3 separate regions of the Homo sapiens genome follow, and regions 1 and 3 are each linked to region 2. Evidence: fine-mapped expression QTL. A gene starts in region 2. Each other region holds a variant in brackets. All regions are shown on one strand. Distances are from middle to middle.

The links.
Region 1: its variant is fine-mapped to the expression of PGS1 in whole blood (TOPMed, PIP above 0.99).
Region 3: its variant is fine-mapped to the expression of PGS1 in gastroesophageal junction (GTEx, PIP above 0.99).

Annotation. Positions count from the first base shown.
Region 1 is chr17:78,420,366-78,426,586 of GRCh38, reverse strand. It overlaps PGS1 (phosphatidylglycerophosphate synthase 1), which reads right to left. Exons shown (of 10, transcript NM_024419.5): 10 at 1,928-2,526. It overlaps DNAH17 (dynein axonemal heavy chain 17), which reads left to right. Exons shown (of 81, transcript NM_173628.4): 79 at 1-130; 80 at 1,016-1,241; 81 at 2,434-2,890. The coding sequence ends at 2,681. Among named protein-coding and RNA genes, the nearest start is that of PGS1, 45 kb to the right of the region's middle. RefSeq lists enhancers at 1-163, 164-664, 3,458-4,037. The variant G/T (reference allele first, on the strand shown) is at 2,280.
Region 2 is chr17:78,375,521-78,381,926 of GRCh38, reverse strand. PGS1 (phosphatidylglycerophosphate synthase 1) reads right to left here and starts at 3,278. Exons shown (of 10, transcript NM_024419.5): 1 at 3,119-3,278. The coding sequence starts at 3,261. RefSeq lists a silencer at 2,993-3,232 and an enhancer at 2,428-3,389.
Region 3 is chr17:78,448,728-78,453,727 of GRCh38, reverse strand. DNAH17 (dynein axonemal heavy chain 17) reads left to right here. Exons shown (of 81, transcript NM_173628.4): 65 at 263-385; 66 at 2,055-2,259; 67 at 2,882-3,046; 68 at 3,334-3,474; 69 at 4,144-4,314. Among named protein-coding and RNA genes, the nearest start is that of DNAH17-AS1, 34 kb to the left of the region's middle. RefSeq lists an enhancer at 2,692-3,270 and a silencer at 3,400-3,621. The variant C/T (reference allele first, on the strand shown) is at 2,662.

The DNA.
Region 1 (6,221 bases), 45 kb before region 2:
CACGACCGACGTGGAAGATCTGTCCACGGCTCTCTTCTATGACACCGTGCCTGATACGTGGGTGGCCCGGGCCTACCCCTCCATGATGGGCCTGGCGGCCTGGTACGCAGACCTGCTGCTCCGCATCAGGGTAAGTGCCGTTTTCTCTGAGAGGCTTCCTAAGACTCGGGGACCGAGTGCCCAGAGCTCGGCACACCCCACACCCTAGAGCCTGCAGGAGCATGGCCAGGAGGCTCCTGGGGGCCTGTCCTCTGTCAGATCAGGGCCAGAAGGGCCTAGCCCATGCCCCTCCCACACCCTGACAGTGCAGCCATTTCCTCCCAAAGGAGGAAAACAAGCCAGGCCGCAGAGCAGCTTCCATCAGCTCCTCCTCAAGCGACCCTCAAAGGGTAAGCCGTCCTCTATAAGGAGCGAGGCAATGAAGGCAAGAGCCTCTTTGGGCTCCTAAATTATCCACAAACAGGAAGCCATTTTCTTCCTGACCCTTCTCTACCTGTTCCCTTGTTTAAAATGGAGCAAACAGCAGCTGGACACGGTGGTTCACACCTGTAATCCCAGCACTTTGGGAGACCAAGGCAGGCAGATCACTTGAAGCCAGGAGTTCGAGACCAGCCTGGCCAACATGGCGAAACCCCATCTCTAAAAATACAAAAATAAGCTGGGCATGGTGGCCTGCACCTGTAATCCCAGCTACTCTGGAAGCTGAGGCAGGAGAATTGCTTGAACCCGGGAGGCGGAGGTTGCGTTGAGCCAAGATTGCACCACTGCACTCCAGCCTGGGTGACAGAGCGATACTTCATCTCAAAAAAAAAAAAAAAAAAAAAAAAAAAGCAGACACCAAAGTTGCGTCATGGTAGGTGGCTGGGCTCCATGGCCCCTACTCTGTCCAGCACTTCTAGCTCGCTGAGTGGCCCGTGGAAGGTTCTGGCGTGACCCCTGCTCAGAACGGCCAAGGCCCGGTCGTTCCCATGTCATTCTATGTCCTCTCCTCCTAGCGGCTCGTGTGTCCTTGCAGGAACTCGAGGCCTGGACGACAGACTTTGCCCTGCCCACCACCGTGTGGCTGGCCGGCTTCTTCAACCCCCAGTCGTTCCTCACGGCCATCATGCAGTCCATGGCCAGGAAGAACGAGTGGCCCCTGGACAAGATGTGTCTGTCTGTCGAGGTGACCAAGAAAAACCGAGAGGACATGACCGCTCCTCCGCGAGAGGGCTCCTACGTGTACGGACTCTTCATGGAAGGTAAGGAGGGCTCTTGTCTGTCTGCAGAAGCTTCCAGAGCCAGTGCTACTTGCCAAGACAAGATAAAACTAGCTCTTGGCAAAGACAGGCTGTTCAAGAGCTGTGGGGACAGGCAGGAGAGAGGTGCTCTCAGGGGGCATCAGCCTGCAGGTCAGAGCCACGCTGACCCTAGAGAGGGTTGAGAGGATTCAGGGAATGTGCAGGGTCTGGAGGAGACCAAAAACACCCCAGTCACCTGGCCTCTGCTTTAATGAAAACAGCAGAGCTTGTGAGAGAGCAGCTCCGACGTGATGAAAAGCGCTGAAAAGCCCAGGCTTTCCCTGCCACGGAGCAGTCAGCCCAGGGCAGAAGTGCGTTTTGTGGCTGCACTGAGACTCCAGGTCATGCTGGCTGGCCCAGTCTCACCCACTCCCCAGCTGCTGCCACTCCTGGAACACAGGGTTCAAGGGAAAAGAGGCTGGGGCACCTGTTAGAAGTCCGCCCCCACATCACCCCTGTCCTGCTACACAGAAGAGGTCAGCCAGGACACCGAGGCCGGCCATCTTCTCAGCCCGCCTCTGAGTTGAGCAGCAATGCCACCACCACATACCTGTCCCCTTCAACAGCTGACGTCACCCCATTACCTGTGGGGTGGCAGGGTTGGGCCAGCAACGGCTCAGGCACCCCATTTCCCACACAACCAAAGATAAGCTCTCCATGTTTGTTTATTTTGAGATTTCAGACAGGAAATAAAAACACCATTAAATAGGGCGAGTAGAAATAATAGCAGTCTGGTTAAAGGCAATATTTATATGCACAGATGTATAATTATATTGTGTATGTACACATAGGGCAGACATTACACATTAAGAATCAGGGAACTTTACTCTGTAATTTTTAGCTGGAGTTATGACTTCCTGCCACTGACATTAAGGCTGACAGATGAGGCTCTGAAAATGCCACAGATTTAAACGGATGGAACCCGAGGGCTTTAGCTGAGCTGTTCCTTGAGCCCAGCGGGACGGGGTAGTTACAACATGCAGGCCATCACCTACGAAG[G/T]CCTCTGCTTCCAGCCGTGGCAGCTGGCCTGAAGCCTTTTGGGGTAGAGCCCAGCTCTGCAGAGGGCGGGGAGTGTGAGGACCCCACCCTTCCTGCCAGCCCCTCCCTCACTTACTGGCAGCACACCTGACCCTCAGCCATACTGTCCCTGCAGGGGCTCGCTGGGACACCCAGACTGGAGTCATCGCTGAAGCGCGGCTGAAAGAGCTGACCCCGGCCATGCCTGTCATCTTCATCAAGGCCATTCCTGTGGACCGCATGGAGACCAAGAACATCTATGAGTGTCCCGTGTACAAAACACGCATCCGCGGCCCCACCTATGTCTGGACCTTTAACTTGAAGACCAAAGAGAAGGCAGCGAAGTGGATCCTGGCAGCCGTGGCGCTGCTCCTACAGGTTTAGCTCGCTCCTGCCTCACAGCCCACACTCCCTGGGGCTGGACCACAACTCAGCCCTTCACCTGTGCACCTGTGACTTATTCTTTACAGGAACTGGTGGTGGTTTTTCGTTCTCTTAAATAATCAGGTGCTTTGTAACCAAGCACATCGGAACCAGAGGGTGGAGGTTGGTGTGGAAGAGGTGGGGCAGATTAAAGCCAGTGGAGCCACTCAGCTGTGCCCATCCATTCTGTGCCTGATGGCCACTGTGAGGCCTGGTTCAGGCTTTGGGGAAAGGCCCCAATTCCCAGCAGCCAGAGGCAAGCATTCCAGGAAGTAAATCCCAAATCCTGACTTCCCGGGGGGGTCAGTGGAGTTTGCTTTTAACAGGAGCAGCATGTGGGGTGAGGGCTTGGCACTCACACCCTCTGGCCTGATGCTTCATGCAAACCACCTGCCAATGAGGGGACAGGGCGTTACCCCATACCAGGAGCTGCCGCCTCCACACAGCGTCTCATCCGCCATTACTCCCTGCTCCCAAAAACAACAGGACCTTTTACAAGTAAGGAAACACACCCAAGCCCCCGCCCCCAGAGTCTAGAAGAACAAGCCGTTCCCACAAGCAAGCCCCGGACCTGTAGGACTCTGTGGCTGGGCTGATGCAGGACACGGCAGTGAGGTGGCCAGGCTAGCTAGGGCAGCAGGGTGCAGGCACGAGGGGAGAGAATTAACTAGCAACCTGGGGGATGAGGGGAGACAGCGGCAAACGTCAGAAAAGACGGATCCCAGGGGGACCAAGACAGGATCAACATTTTTTTTTTTTTTCGAGGGAGAGTGAGAGTTTCACTCTTGTCGCCCAGGCTGGAGTGCAATGACGCAATCTCGGCTCACGTTGCAACCTCCACCTCCTGGGCTCAAGCGATTCTCCTGCCTCAACCTCCCAAGTAGCTGGGGTTACAGGCACCCACCACCACACGCAGCTAATTTTTTTATTTTTAGTAGAGATGGGGTTTCACCATGTTGGCCAGGCTGGTCTCAAACTTCTAACCTCAGGTGATTCACCAACCTCGGCCTCCCAAAGCGCCAGGATTACAGGTGTCAACCACTGTGCCCGGCCCTCAACATTTCTCAGGCTTCAAAGAAAAGCAGGCCGCTGCAGCAGCTCACGCCTCTAATCCCAGGACGGCAATCTTACTTGAGCCCAGGAGTTTAAGACCAGCCTGGGCAACGTGGCAAAACCATCTCTATCAATCAAAAATACAAAAAATTAGCTGGGAATGTTGTATGTGCCTGTGGTCCCAGCTACTCAGGAGGCTGAGGCAGGAGGGTCGCTTGAGCCCATGAGGTCAAGTACGCAGCGAGGCATGATCATGCCACTCACTCCAGCCTGGGTGACAGAGTGAGACCCTGTCTCAAAAGGGGGAAAAAAGGCAAACACACCCATTAGGAATATCGTTCTACGTTCAGCTTGATCATCAAGTTTTGCAAAAACATTTTTCCAAGTTTACTCACCTAAATCATGGGTTAAGAAGCATCTAGAAAGTCCAAATTCTGAGGGTAATGATTCACAACAATCTTAGCGCCCAGTAGGGCTATCGGAGGGAAAAGAAAAATCCTCCCCTCCTGGCGCCCAAGGAATCCAGCCCTTTGTGGCTGCAGAGAAGGGAAGCAGTTTCAGCCTCCCCCAGCCTGGCTGGGCCAATACCTCTGCTGGCCAGGAGGGGTCACTGCAGCCCTTCAGGTGACCAGGGGAGCTAAAGCCACCAGGGGCCACCGGGCAACTCACTTCAGTCCCTGGTAATAACCACAAAATGTGACGTTTTTCCATTTTGCCTTTAGATCCTGAAATAAGAAAGTAATCTAGTCCACACATACATATTGTGGGTAGTTGACAAAATTATCTCTAAACTTTCCAAGAAATGATTCGCACTTAAGCTGCACTCCAGCGACGGGGAACACAGGGACTGGAACACGACAGCCCCGCGCACCTAGAAAGCCGGGAGGACTGCGGCGGCCGCCGCCCGCCGCCCGCTGCTCTCTGTTGCTCCGGCTGCTTTGCAGAGTTAGGGAGGCTTGGTGTGGGGAGCTCCTCAGGGAGAACCTGCCTAGGACAGCCTCGAAGGTCATCAGCAGAGACAGAGGGAGCAGTGTGCGCTGCGGGAACGGCACTGCAGATAGATTGCTTAAGCCTGGCTGTGGCATAATGATATTTACTCTGGTCCCACAGAATCTGGAGGAATGCGAACTCTGTTTACCGAGAGCCTCTCTCCAAACAGAAACCCAGTGCCCCTGCACATTCCTTTGGCTCCTCCAGTCTAATTGTCCCACAGGACACCGTAATAACTAGTTGGAAGGCAAACAGTGTTAACTGATGTGATGTGCTGCTGTCCAGGGCACTGTGGCCAGGCCGCCGCTCCACCTATCCCCAGCCACTCAAACTGCAGGTCTGCCTGGTGCGGAAGCTGCAACTGTCCTTGTCTAAGACCAGGTGAGCCTATGCAACCTTTCAGACCCCATGAAGGGTGACAGTGACTCCTGCCAGCCCTCGGGAGGGAAAGGCGAGAAGCTGCTTCTAGAGAGGCAAAGTGCAGGGACTAAATCTAATCTCACTCCCCGAAAGGACAGGCTGCCATGCCCTGTAGCCCAGGAAGCTTCTCTCTGTGCAAGGGTCAAGCACCTGAAGATGATAAAGAGATCAGGCAGTGAGGTCACAAAAGCAGCTCCTGGAGACACTGGGGGATATGGAGAGCTGGCTTTATAAACACACATGACATGTATTCAAAATCCCCTGCTACTAGGTGACACAAAAATGTTTTAAGTAGATCCAATAAAAATAAAGTTCATTCTTCAAAAAATAAATTGCTAGGGAAAAAACAATCACAAGGTGTAGTCCTTAATTGGACTTCAAGTCAAATAATCGAAAAAATTAATTTTAAGGCAAGTGGAATTGTGAACACCATTTAGGTATTTGATGATACTAAGACATTCTTGGTAATTTTTGTTTCAGGAGTGACACTGGTGCTGTTTTGGTTAAGTACACATTTTGGGGGAAGACAGCAGGATATGCACGTTATTTAGAAATACGGACACGTGTGCACATCAGAAGAAACAAGCCAAGAGTGGCTGCCTGGGGGAAGGGAGGGCAGGAAATGGCCGCAGTATTGTTTTACTCTCTACATTTGCACACACTATTCAAATAAAATGAAAAGTAATTAAAATAACTAGGAAAAGCTGCAGATAAACTACACATTTTTAAACAATGAGACTTAGCAGAGCACTAAGGTGCCAGGCACTAAGGGAGCCCACGCTGCACACATGAGATGCCGGCACTAGCGCATGTGCCGGCCACATGGGTCCTGGCTCATCTTTGACTCCTCACCGTCCCTTCCCCACAAGCCACCATCCAAAGGCCCAGCCATCCAAAGCAACAGAACTACCCACAACATCCAGAACCAGAGAGCAGGGGCCTCGGGAGCCTGACCCCACCCGGAGTGCAGTCCAGGCCCTGAGGGATCCAGGACACAAAAGGTCACTCAGCAAAGACCCCACCTTTAATGGCAGCCAC
Region 2 (6,406 bases):
GCACAGCAGTGCTCAATACACACATGATGAATAAATTAACGGATCCAGCAGTTCCTAATGATAATGAGTCAGATGCTAGCTTAAGAGGAAATGACAGTGCTTCTAAATCATTAACAGAAGTAATTTTAAGTAGAGTTCTCTGTCTCTCTGGCTGTCTCTATGCCTGAAAGGAAACCGCGGCAGTAAAAGGAACGTCCCCTCACGAGGGTTCACTGGCCCTCCAACAGCTGACTCAGATCGACAAGCTAAAACCTAAAATAATTCAAGCTCATGACTGCACAGAACTATTATCAATGAATCAATGATCAGCGAGTTACAAGAAACCACATCATTCGGGGAATGAGAAATTGGGAGGTGCAACTGAATAATGGAGAAGAAAGCAAAGTCAGCAGCTAATAAAGGGTAAGCAGCCACAACAAACATGAATAACTCGAACACCAAGGCCACAACGAATCAGAAAAGAACTGCAAACCGAATAAGGCAAAGAAAGGCTCAGAAACCTACACTACCACTCAATACCGGTCAAAGCATTTATCCTCAGTCCTACCATAGGCATTATTTCCGAGGATTACAAAGCAAAAACTTCTGTCTTAATGCCCAAGAAACTGAGTTGCTGGTTGAACTGTTGTCCCAGAGAAACAATCATCTCTCTCAGCTTAATGAAGGATGAAGGCACACAAACTGCATCCACTCACACAATTTACAAAAAAAAGAGATTAGAAAGTCAATTTAGACTATCTCCACTGCCACACTGCCCCTCCCACCACCAAAAAACAAAAAAGTGGCTGGGCGCAGTGGCTCACACCTGTAATCCCAGCACTGTGGGAGGCCGAGGTGGGCAGGTTACAAGGTCAGGAGATCGAGGCCAGCCTGGCCAACATGGTGAAACCCTGTCTCTACTAAAGATACAAAAATTAGCCGGACGTGGTGGCATGTGTCTGTAGACCCAGCTACTCTGGAGGCTGAGGCAGGAGAATCACTTGAACCCACGAGGTAGAGGTTGCACTGAGCCGAGATCAGACCACTGCACTCCAGCCTGAGTGACAGAACAAGACTCTGTCTCAAAAAAAAAAAGAAAAAGAAAAAGAAAAAAAGCACACTCATGAGAGATTTCTTTTTTAAAATATTTGTGTCAACTGCCCCAACATCCTTTAGTAATCAATTCCAATGTTGAACAATGATTTATAATGAAGTGTTTTTCATATAGTTTAAACATATAGAGGGAAATGACAAAGTCACCTAAATCTTGTCTTCAAGGGTAGAACATTTTTTTGAAACTGTAAACCAAATCTCAGTGGTTTGATGCCAGGACGTAGAAGTCATCTGACTTCGTCACCCAGAGATGAGCAGGTCTTTTGTTAAACACTGAAAAAATGAAAATGCAAAAAATGCAGAGGCCATTTCTTTTACAGCCCCAGTCCTGCTGGGTTCACCAACGTGAAACCTAGCAGGTTTCCAAGAGCGCCATCCTGCCCTGATTCTATCACCTAAAAATTCCCCTAAATCAAACTTGAGTTTTCGATGAAAATCTTCCACCATAGATCACCATGAAGCAAGCTCTTTTCTGTACCTAGAATCAGTACACATGACTGGACCCCAGATCTCTGTACTAGATGTCTGACCCCAGGAGGTCAAATCTCACCCGAGGAGTACACGTACAGATAGAAAATCTAACACAATGCAACCTCAACTAAAGGAAGCAGTTCTAAGATTTTTTTTTTTAAAGATCAAGTGTAAGACTCAATTAAGAAACCTATTTGCAGCCGGGCACGGTGGCTCACGCCTGTAATCCCAGCACTTTGGGAGGCCGAGGCAGGTGGATCAACTGAGGCTGGGAGTTAGAGACCAGCCTGACCAACATGGAAAAACCCTGTCTCTACTAAAAATACAAAATTAGCCGGGTGTGGTGGCTTATGTCTGTAATCCCAGCTACTCGGGAGGCTGAGGCAGGAGAATCGCTTGAACCTGGAAGGTGGAGATTGAGGTGAGCCAAGATTGCGCCATTGCACTCCAGTCTGGGCAACGAGTGAAACTCCGTCTCAAAAAAAAAAGAAAAGAAAAGAAAACTATTTGCACACAAGAGAATTTTTTTTTTTTGAAACAGAGTTTTGCTCTTGTTGCCTAGGCTGGAGTGCAATGAGGCAATCTTGGCTCACTGCAAACTCCACCTCCTGGGTTCAAGCGATTCTCCTGCCTCAGGGTCAGCCTCCCAAGTAGCTGGGATTACAGCCATGCACCACCATGCCCAGCTAATTTTGTATTTTTAGTAGAGACGGTTTCACCATGTTGGTCAGGCTGGTCTTAAACTCCTGACCTCAGGTGATCCACCTGCCTCGGCCTCCCAAAGTGCTGGAATTACAGGCGTGAGCCACCACACCCGGCCAAGAATTATTTATCCCCTTTTTTTTAATATTAGCAAGCCTCAGGTCAGCATGTTCTTGGCAAATGTTTATTTTAAAAGACCACTGCCTGAACAAATTGCTCCAAAGCCTACTTCATCATTTACATAACTTCAGTACTTTTCCAGAACACAGGCCCTTTGAAATGTGTAAAAAGTGTTTCGAGTGGCTCCTCTTCCCATGCCTGAGTGTTACTAAGGATTGCTTCACAGCTTTTTCTGGCAGGATGTGAGAAACGCTCTATACACAAAATCCCAGCAACGGTGATTCACTCACAGCCAGGCTTACCTAAGGAAAAGACCCCTCTGAACTCTCCGACACTCACATCCTGGGGCCGAAACCATGATATAAACAGCCTCTGGAGCTTGACCGAAGCTCCCTGAACGCACACACAGTCCCTCTTTTAACGTGTAAGTGCACGGTGGCCGGGGCTCGCCAACAAGCACGGTGTAGACGGGGAGCAAGGACTGGCCGGGCTGCGCAGGAGGCCCGCCGGCTGGACCCGGCCGATAATGGAGCACGAGCCGCCCACCCTCCCTCAAGAAGGCCAGTGAAGAAGCACATAGGTCAGGCGCCGAGCCCCGGGAGGCAGAAATGGGCCCGGAAACCGGGGAGGGACTCGCTGCGGATGCCCAGGACGCTGGGGCCGGGAGTTTGAGCGCCGGGGGGCCGGGCTGCAGCCGCGAGGGCTGCACTCTCATCCCGGCCGCCCCTCTCACCTCCTGCGCTGGCGGTCCCGGTTCCTGCCGAGGCGGTCGGACAGGCGTCCCAGGAGCGCGGCCAGCCCTGGGCGGCCAGGCAGGAGGCCCAGCAGTCGCCTCCAGAACACGGGTCCCGCCGCAGCTGCCGCCGCCACCGCCATGGAGACTCGCCGCTTCCGCTTCCGCTCCCGGCGGGCGCGAACTTTATTGACAAAGGCGAGCGCGGACACGGCTCAGGCGCGCAGGCGCGGAACCCCTGGCTCGGGGAGGGCGGCGCTGCACCGCCCCCAAGCCTCAGTTTCCCCTCTGGGGGACACAGGCGAGGAACAGTGGTCGCGCCGCAGGAGGGGGTCGGAAGCCGGCCCGTTAAATCCGTAAGGGCGCCAGGTGGCCTGCATTCCTGCAGTCACTCGTCACAGGTCGCGGAGGAAAGGATGCGGCGCAGGGGCTCTAGCACCGTCACGCTTGGCTCCAACTCACCAGCTGTCAAAAAAGCTTTTGTTTGTTTGTTTTGAGACAGAGTCTCGGTCTGTGTCCCAGGCTGGAGTGCAGTGGCGCGATCTTGGCGCATTGCAGCCTCGACCTCCCGGCCTCAGGGGATCCTCTCAAAGTGCTGGGACCACTCCCAAAGTGCTGGGACCACCAAAGTGCGTGTGCCACCATGCCCGGCTAATTCTTTACTTTTTTGTCGAGATGGGGGTCTCACTACGTTGCCCAGGCCGGTCTCGAGCTCCTGGGCTCAAGAGATCATCCAGCCTCAGCCTCCCAAAGTGTTGCCATTACAGACATGAGCCACCGAGCCTGACCACTGGCTGTCAAGATTGACTCCTCGGCCGGCGCAGTGGCTCACGCCTGTAATCCCTGCACTCTGGGAGGCAGAGGCGGGTGGATCACCTGAAGTCAGGAGTTCGAGACCAGCCTGGCCAACCTGATGAAACCCCGTCTCTACTAAAAATGCAAAAAATTAGCTGGGCGCAGTGGCCCATGCCTGTAATCCCAAACTACTCAGGAGGCTGAGGCAGGATAATCGCTTGAACCCAGGAGGTGGAGGTTGCAGTGAGCCAAGATCGAACCACTGTACTCCAGCCTGGGCAACAAGAGCAAAACTCCGTCAAAAAAAAAAAAAAAAAAAAAAAAAAAGGACTTCTCACTGATAAGTGAGGGAATTACTGTTTGAGGCTCTAATTGATAGGGTGTTCTTTAGACTTGTACAACACCCCTAAGGTGTTAAACTTGAACAAAGTCTGTTCTTGTACAAAGTCTTGTAACCTGGTTAACGCTGACTCACTAAGGTGCACAGAACCACGGAAAATCCCCACCAGACTGAGAGAGGAATCATTTTTCACCCTGTTAGCCCCAGAGGCTGCAGCTCCATGGCACAGAACAGCCTAAGCAAATCTGTGTGAGATGAACAGTCTTCCACCCTCCTGATATGCCCAAGTACACAGATATCACTGGCCCCTGGCAACACACAGTTCTATGCCCAAAAAGCTGACGGAGCACATCCTCATACACCAAGAACACTTTTTTTTTTTTTTTTTTTTTGAGGCAGGGTTTCACTCTTGTCACCCAGGCTGGAGTGCAATGGCGCAATCTTGGCTCACTGCAACCTCTGCCTCCTGGGATCAAGAGATTTTCCTGTCTCAGCCTCCGGAATAGCTGGGATTACAGGCGTGCGCCACCACGCCTGGCTAATTTTTGTATTTTTAGTAGAGACAGGGTTTCACCGTGTTGGCCAGGCTGGTCTCAAACTCCTGACCTCAAGTGATCCACCCAACTCGGCCTTCCAAAGTGCTGGGATTACAGGCGTGAGCCACCGCGCCCGGCCCAAGAACACTTTTTGCAGCTAATTTTAAAATGGAAAACTTTGTGGCATTCTGAAAGGCAGGAGAGGTGATCTCTGATCTGTAATATGCAGCTCCCTGGCTGACCCACATAGGCTGGGACCTGGAAACTGGAAAAGCTGTAGGACATAATCATAGTCTGCCGTGTTGTGAGGTTAAAATGATATGGACACGTGGGCCGGGCGCAGTGGCTCACACCTGTAATCCCAGCACTTTGGGAGGCCGAGGCGGGCGGATCATCTGAGGTCGGGAGTTCGAGACCAGCCTCACCAACATGGAGAAACCCTGTCTCTACTAAAAATACAAAATTAGACGGGCATGGTGGCACATGCCTGTAATCCTAGCTACTCAGGAAGGCTGAGGCAGGAGAATCGCTTGAACCCGGGAGGCGGAGGTTGCAGTGAGTCGAGATCGCGCCATTGCACTCCAGCCTGGGCAACAAGAGCGAAACTCAGTCTCAAAAAAAAAAGATATGGACACACTGAAAAAAACACTCCAAAGTCCACTTCCACAGATTATGCAGGGAAATCAACTACACATTCCCACAAGAATGTTCATCTCAGCCTTGTTCATGATATCGGAAGTGTGGAAGCAAATCTTCAGGGTAGGGGGGTTGGTTAAATAATGATACATCGGTATGTTGGAAGACCACACAATCATAAAAATAACATGTTCTGGAAGAATATTTAATGACATTAAGTGTAAAAGCCAAATTACCAAGGAGTAGCGTAGAGACCATCTCATTTCATTAAAGGAGAGGAAGAAAGAGGAAATGCGTGTATGTACACAGAAAGACTGAAAGTAAATACCCCCAAATGTTAATGTTGGTTATTTGGTGCCATTAAGGAGTTTCCAAATTGTTGACAATCAACAAGTATTTCAGATTGGCTTAAAGTTTTCTTTTGCGTTTAGATAGCTTTACTAATACTACATGGAATTTGATTCAACCCTTCCAAGTTAGAAATGGTGAATCATCAAATTTCCTAACTTCCAGTAACTAGAATGAGGCCATCCATTGCATGGTTCCACTTTTGCACTGTTCCTGGCCCACGGTTGTTGCAGAGTAAACACTTGCTGTATGGCTACACCGTCATGCTCAGCGGTGAGCGCCACATGGGCTATGGGAGCCTGGTTATCATCCTAGAAGGAGCTGGCAGCTTTTCTGCATGGGTGCTTTGCTGTGCGAGGTACTGAGACAAACAGCCATGGTACAGGCTCACTGGGAATTCCCAACCTTAAAGAAATGCTAGCAACAGACAGCAATATTGATAGCATGGTAAGTCACACTAATAAGTATTTACCCTAAGGATAACATCAAGGAATGACCCAGTCCCTTCTGAAACCACACATCGAGAGCCTCTGGCCTTCATGGCTAGTTTAAAACAGACAGAGCTATCACCAGAGTGAGGCAACCACGACTTTGCTGGGGACACATACATTTTGAGGTTGCAAAAATGTTAAA
Region 3 (5,000 bases), 73 kb before region 2:
CCAGAGAATGAGACCCTGTCTCAAAAAGCAAAACTGTTTCCATTTTCATCTCCACTCCCATAAGAGCACGGGGGCAGTTTACAAAGAAGCCCCTCGGCTCCTTTCAGGAAAGGGCGAGCTGTTGGGAACAAGTTGTGGGCTCCTAGGTCACCCCTCGCTTGGCGCTGTCTCGCTCAGAGGGCAGGGGCTGCTGGTCGGAGCGTGCGCACCGTTCCATCACGAGGCCCTCTGCCATGAACCAGCTTCCGTGTTGTGCCCGCAGCTACCTGGATGTCATCGAGCAGGCCATCTCGGAAGGGGACACCTTGCTCATTGAGAACATCGGCGAAACCGTGGACCCCGTGCTGGACCCTCTACTGGGCAGGAACACGATTAAAAAGGGAAAGTGAGTTGTTTCCGCCTCCGTGGCTTGAGCCAGGTAAACATCTTCAGGCCCGAGGCCTGGGCGTGTGCATGTAGAGAAAACGCCCGGAATTTCCTTTGCTTCCCTGGTAAGCAGCAAGGGCTTTGACAAAGTGCCTGCTGGTGGGAAGGAACCCCCAGCTCCTGAGGAAAGACTGGAAAGAGGGGCCACTTCCCAATTAGGAATATCTCCGCCAACATTTTATCAGTGATGGCCTCCAGATGGGGAGGCTTGAAGGTGATGTCTGTCTTCATTCTGTTCTTAGGCATTTTGCAAATCTTGGGACTGCATTACCTTTAAAAATTCACATAACGTAAAATTAACCACATTAAAATACACAATTGAGCATTTGGTACACTCACGATGTTGTACAAACACATCTGTCCAGTTGCACATTTTCACCACCCCGAAAGGAAGCCCTGTACCCACTCTTCTTCATTCCCCTCCCTCCTGAGCCCTAACATCCACTACTCTGCTCTCTGTGTCTGTGGATTTGCCTATTCTGGACATTTCCTCTGAAGAGAATCAAGCAACATGTGTCTTTTTGTGTCTGGCTCTTTTTACTCAGCATTTTTTGTTTGTTTTTTGAGATGGAGTCTCGCTCTGTCGTCCAGGCTGGAGTCCAGTGGTACGATCTCTGCTCACTGCAGCCTCTGCCTCCTGGGTTCAAGTGATTCTCCTGCCTCAGCCTCCCAAGTAGCTGGGATTACAGGAACACACCAACGTGCCCAGCTAATTTTTGTATTTTTAGTAGAGACGGGGTTTCCCCATGTTGGCCAGGATGATCTCGAACTCCTGACCTCAGGTGATCCACCTGCCTCGGCCTCCCCAAGTGCTGGGATTACAGGCGGGAGCCACCGCGCCCGGCCTTTACTTAGCATGTTTTTTGGGGTCATGCACGTGGTCGCATGTGTCAGTCCTTCATTCCTCTTGATGGCAGAATCATTTTCCACGTGTGGCCGGGCGCATTGTGTTTGTCCACTCATCAGCTGATGCGTGGAGCTTGCATTATTCATTTTACAATTTTAAAAAATTAAATCTACTTTAAAAATGTAAATGTCAGAGCTGACAGGAGCCACCTTTAAATGCAGAGATGCATGCAGAAACCCAGAACCCAGGAGGTGGCAAATCAATATGCAGAGGTCCTAGACTCTGGGAGGGGCCTGGTGTGAGTGCTGAGGGGTGAAGCTAGCCAGAGGCCCCTCAAAGTGAGCCCAGCTACAAAGAGGGGACAGCAGGGTGTAGAGCCGGAGAGAAGCGCCCCCCACAGTGGATGAGCAGACCCAGGGTTGCAGTCCTGGGAGCTTCCAGAATGGACGAATGTTGTAAATGAGTCTGGGTGGAGGCCAAGCAGAAGGTTTCGGTCAGGGCTCCCAGGGGAGGACAGAGTATCGCCAGAGGGGTGTAAACCCTGCTGCAAAGATGAGCCTGATCACCCAAGGAAAGAGCAGGTGCATCTCCCAGAAGGGCCCACGTCACAGGCCAGGGAGGAGGAACAGACAAGGAGAGGTGCAGTGCTCTTCCAGGGACCAGAAGGGAGGGTTCAAGGTGGCGGCCTGGCCTGGGGCTGGGGTGAAAGGTGGTCTGTACTTGTGTTCCTCTCCCCTGGTCACTGGGAGGCCCACTAACCCTTTCCTCCACCAACCGCCAGGTACATTAAGATCGGTGACAAGGAGGTGGAGTACCACCCCAAGTTCCGCCTGATCCTACACACCAAGTACTTCAACCCACACTACAAGCCAGAGATGCAGGCTCAGTGCACCCTCATCAACTTCCTGGTCACCAGGGATGGACTCGAGGACCAACTCTTGGCCGCTGTGGTGGCCAAAGAGCGCCCAGATCTGGAACAGCTGAAGGTAATGGCCTGAAGTTTGGTCACACGGGAGGAGGTGCCGTCCCACACAGAGGGGGCCAGGTCACTGTGAGGGTCCCCGACCAGGGCTGCCAGTCCAGTGTGTGTCGTTGCTTCTCTCTGAAGGTGCCTCAGTGTGTCCCACGGCATCACAGCTTCTCATACGACAGGATGGCTCATTTCCTTCCCCAGCTGTCCCCTCTTCCTGCTCCCAAATTTAATTCTAAGTCACATGACCTCTTTGCTTAAAGAACATGAGTCACAGCGGTCCTCGGGGGCTCTAAGCTCCAAAGCGCTGCCCTGCAAGAATGGCCTGGCTGCCAGCCCTTGCACCTGCCACATTTCTGGCTGTTATAGCCACTTGCATGGGCTCAGGAGGCCCAGGCCCGCCTGTCCCCGTTCTGCC[C/T]CCTACAGTCTCCGTGACAGGAAGCCTCAAGGCTGGGAGCAGGGCCAGGGCCTCTCTGAGGTTCCAGGGGCTCTGCTTCTGCAGCCCCTTCCAGGACCTGAGCTCGTTCCTCCCGCTCAAAGCCTGGGCCTTGGCTCAGCTACATGGCCACCTGAGGGAGGCCCGGGTGCCCGGTGGACAGAGCCAGGCAATGCAGTGACTCCTGCACCTCCCCTTGCAGGCAAACCTCACCAAGTCTCAAAACGAATTTAAGATTGTTCTGAAAGAGCTGGAAGATTCGCTCCTGGCCCGTCTGTCGGCTGCGTCGGGGAACTTTCTGGGAGACACGGCCTTGGTGGAGAATCTGGAGACCACCAAGCACACAGCCAGCGAGATCGAGGAGAAGGTCAGAGCTGCCTCGGTGACGTGCCCTGGCAGCCAGGGCTTGGGAGGCTGGGCCACGGGCGATCGGCGCCTCCCTACCATGAGAAAGGAGAAAAGCAGCTTCGGTCATACGTGCCCGAGTGGGCCCAGGGCAGGAGAAGGGGTCTGGGCTCCCATCCTGCACCCAGCTGCTGCTGAGAGCCCTTGGGTGGCTTCCCAGGGAGCGAGGCTGGTGGCTGGGAATGAGCCCACCTGCTCATGGCACTGCCCATCTGCTGTGTCATTCACACCCCTTTTGTTTGTGTCGAGGTGGTGGAGGCAAAAATCACAGAAGTTAAAATCAACGAAGCGAGAGAGAACTACCGCCCGGCTGCGGAGAGGGCATCTCTGCTCTACTTCATACTGAACGATCTCAACAAAATCAACCCCGTCTACCAGTTCTCCCTCAAGGTGCGCCCTGCAGCTGGGGCTGGGTGCCTCCCTCAAGGTGGGGCTGCATCTGGGCTCCACAGCCAGGCCTGTTGCCCACACAGCCATCGGGCAGTGCCAGGGCCACCCTCAGAGGGCAGACCTGGTCCAGCCTGCAGATGGAGCTGGAAGAGGGGGAGCCAGGGGCCCCCATCAGTCCTACACCCATTCTCCCCAGGAGAGGGTATGAGCTGCTCCCTCCTCCCTGCTCTTCCCCTGGTGCCTCCAGGCACTCACAACCCAATCAAAACAAACTGGATGGCCTGGCATGGTGGCTCATGCCTGTCATCTCAGCACTATGGGGGGCCGAGGCGGGTGGATCACCTGAGGTCAGGAGTTCAAGACCAGCCTGACCAACATGGTGAAACCCTGTCTGTACTAAAAATAAAAAAAAATTAGCCAGGTGTGGTGGTGTGCGCCTTGGGAGGCTGAGGCAGGAGAATCGCTTGAACACTGCAACCTCCCTCACTGCAGAGGGTGCAGTGAGCCAAGATCACGCCACTGCACTCCAGCCTGGGCGACAGAGCAAGACTCTGTCTCAAAGAAACAAAACAAACTGGAGGCCACCACAGGTGGCAGGGAGTGGTGGCGGGGAGTGGTGAAGGGCTCCATCTCTGCACGCCTCCATGGCTCTCGGTGGCGGATCCCCAGGCCTTCAACGTGGTGTTTGAGAAAGCCATCCAGAGGACCACCCCTGCCAACGAGGTGAAGCAGCGGGTGATCAACCTGACGGACGAGATCACCTACTCCGTCTACATGTACACGGCCCGGGGACTCTTCGAGAGGGACAAACTCATTTTCCTGGCACAAGTTACGTTTCAGGTAATGTCTAGCCTCACTGTTCCTAGTGTGGTCCGTGGACCAGCGGTGTCACTGACCCCTGGGAGCTTTGTGGAAAGGCAGATTGTTGGGCCCCCACCCAAACCTGGTGATTTCAAACCCGCATTTTAGCAATATACCCAGGTGATTATAAAGTCTGAGATGCCTGACGTGGAACAGGCCTGGGGCTCTCCTAGTTGATATTTGGGAAGCTGGCACAGTATTCCAATGGGAGCTAGTGAAGGGGTGGTGTTTTAAGGAGAATTTCACAAGGAAATTCATTTTACATGTAAGTTGTGCTGAGTAAATAGTCCTGCATTAGTGCTTAGCCCACTGTGGGGTGACTGATGTTTCTTAAGAAATAAGTGTATGAATAAACAAATATTCCTCCTGTTTATACAGCCCTGCTAAAATATTTAAAGATCTGCATTCTCTGAAATTGATTAAACAGCCTGTCTTAATTTGTTTTGTGCGGCTATAACAGAATACCCAAGGCTGAGTAATCTATAAACAATAGAAATTTATTTCTCATGGTCCTGGGGTCTGGGAAGTTCCATATGAAAGTGCTGGCATCTGGCAAGGGCCTTCTTGCTGTGTCATCCCATGGTGGAAGGCTAGAGGGCGAGAGAGAGCACAAAACGGGCCAAACTCCTTGTGTAACAAACCCACTCCCTTGATCATGACATTAA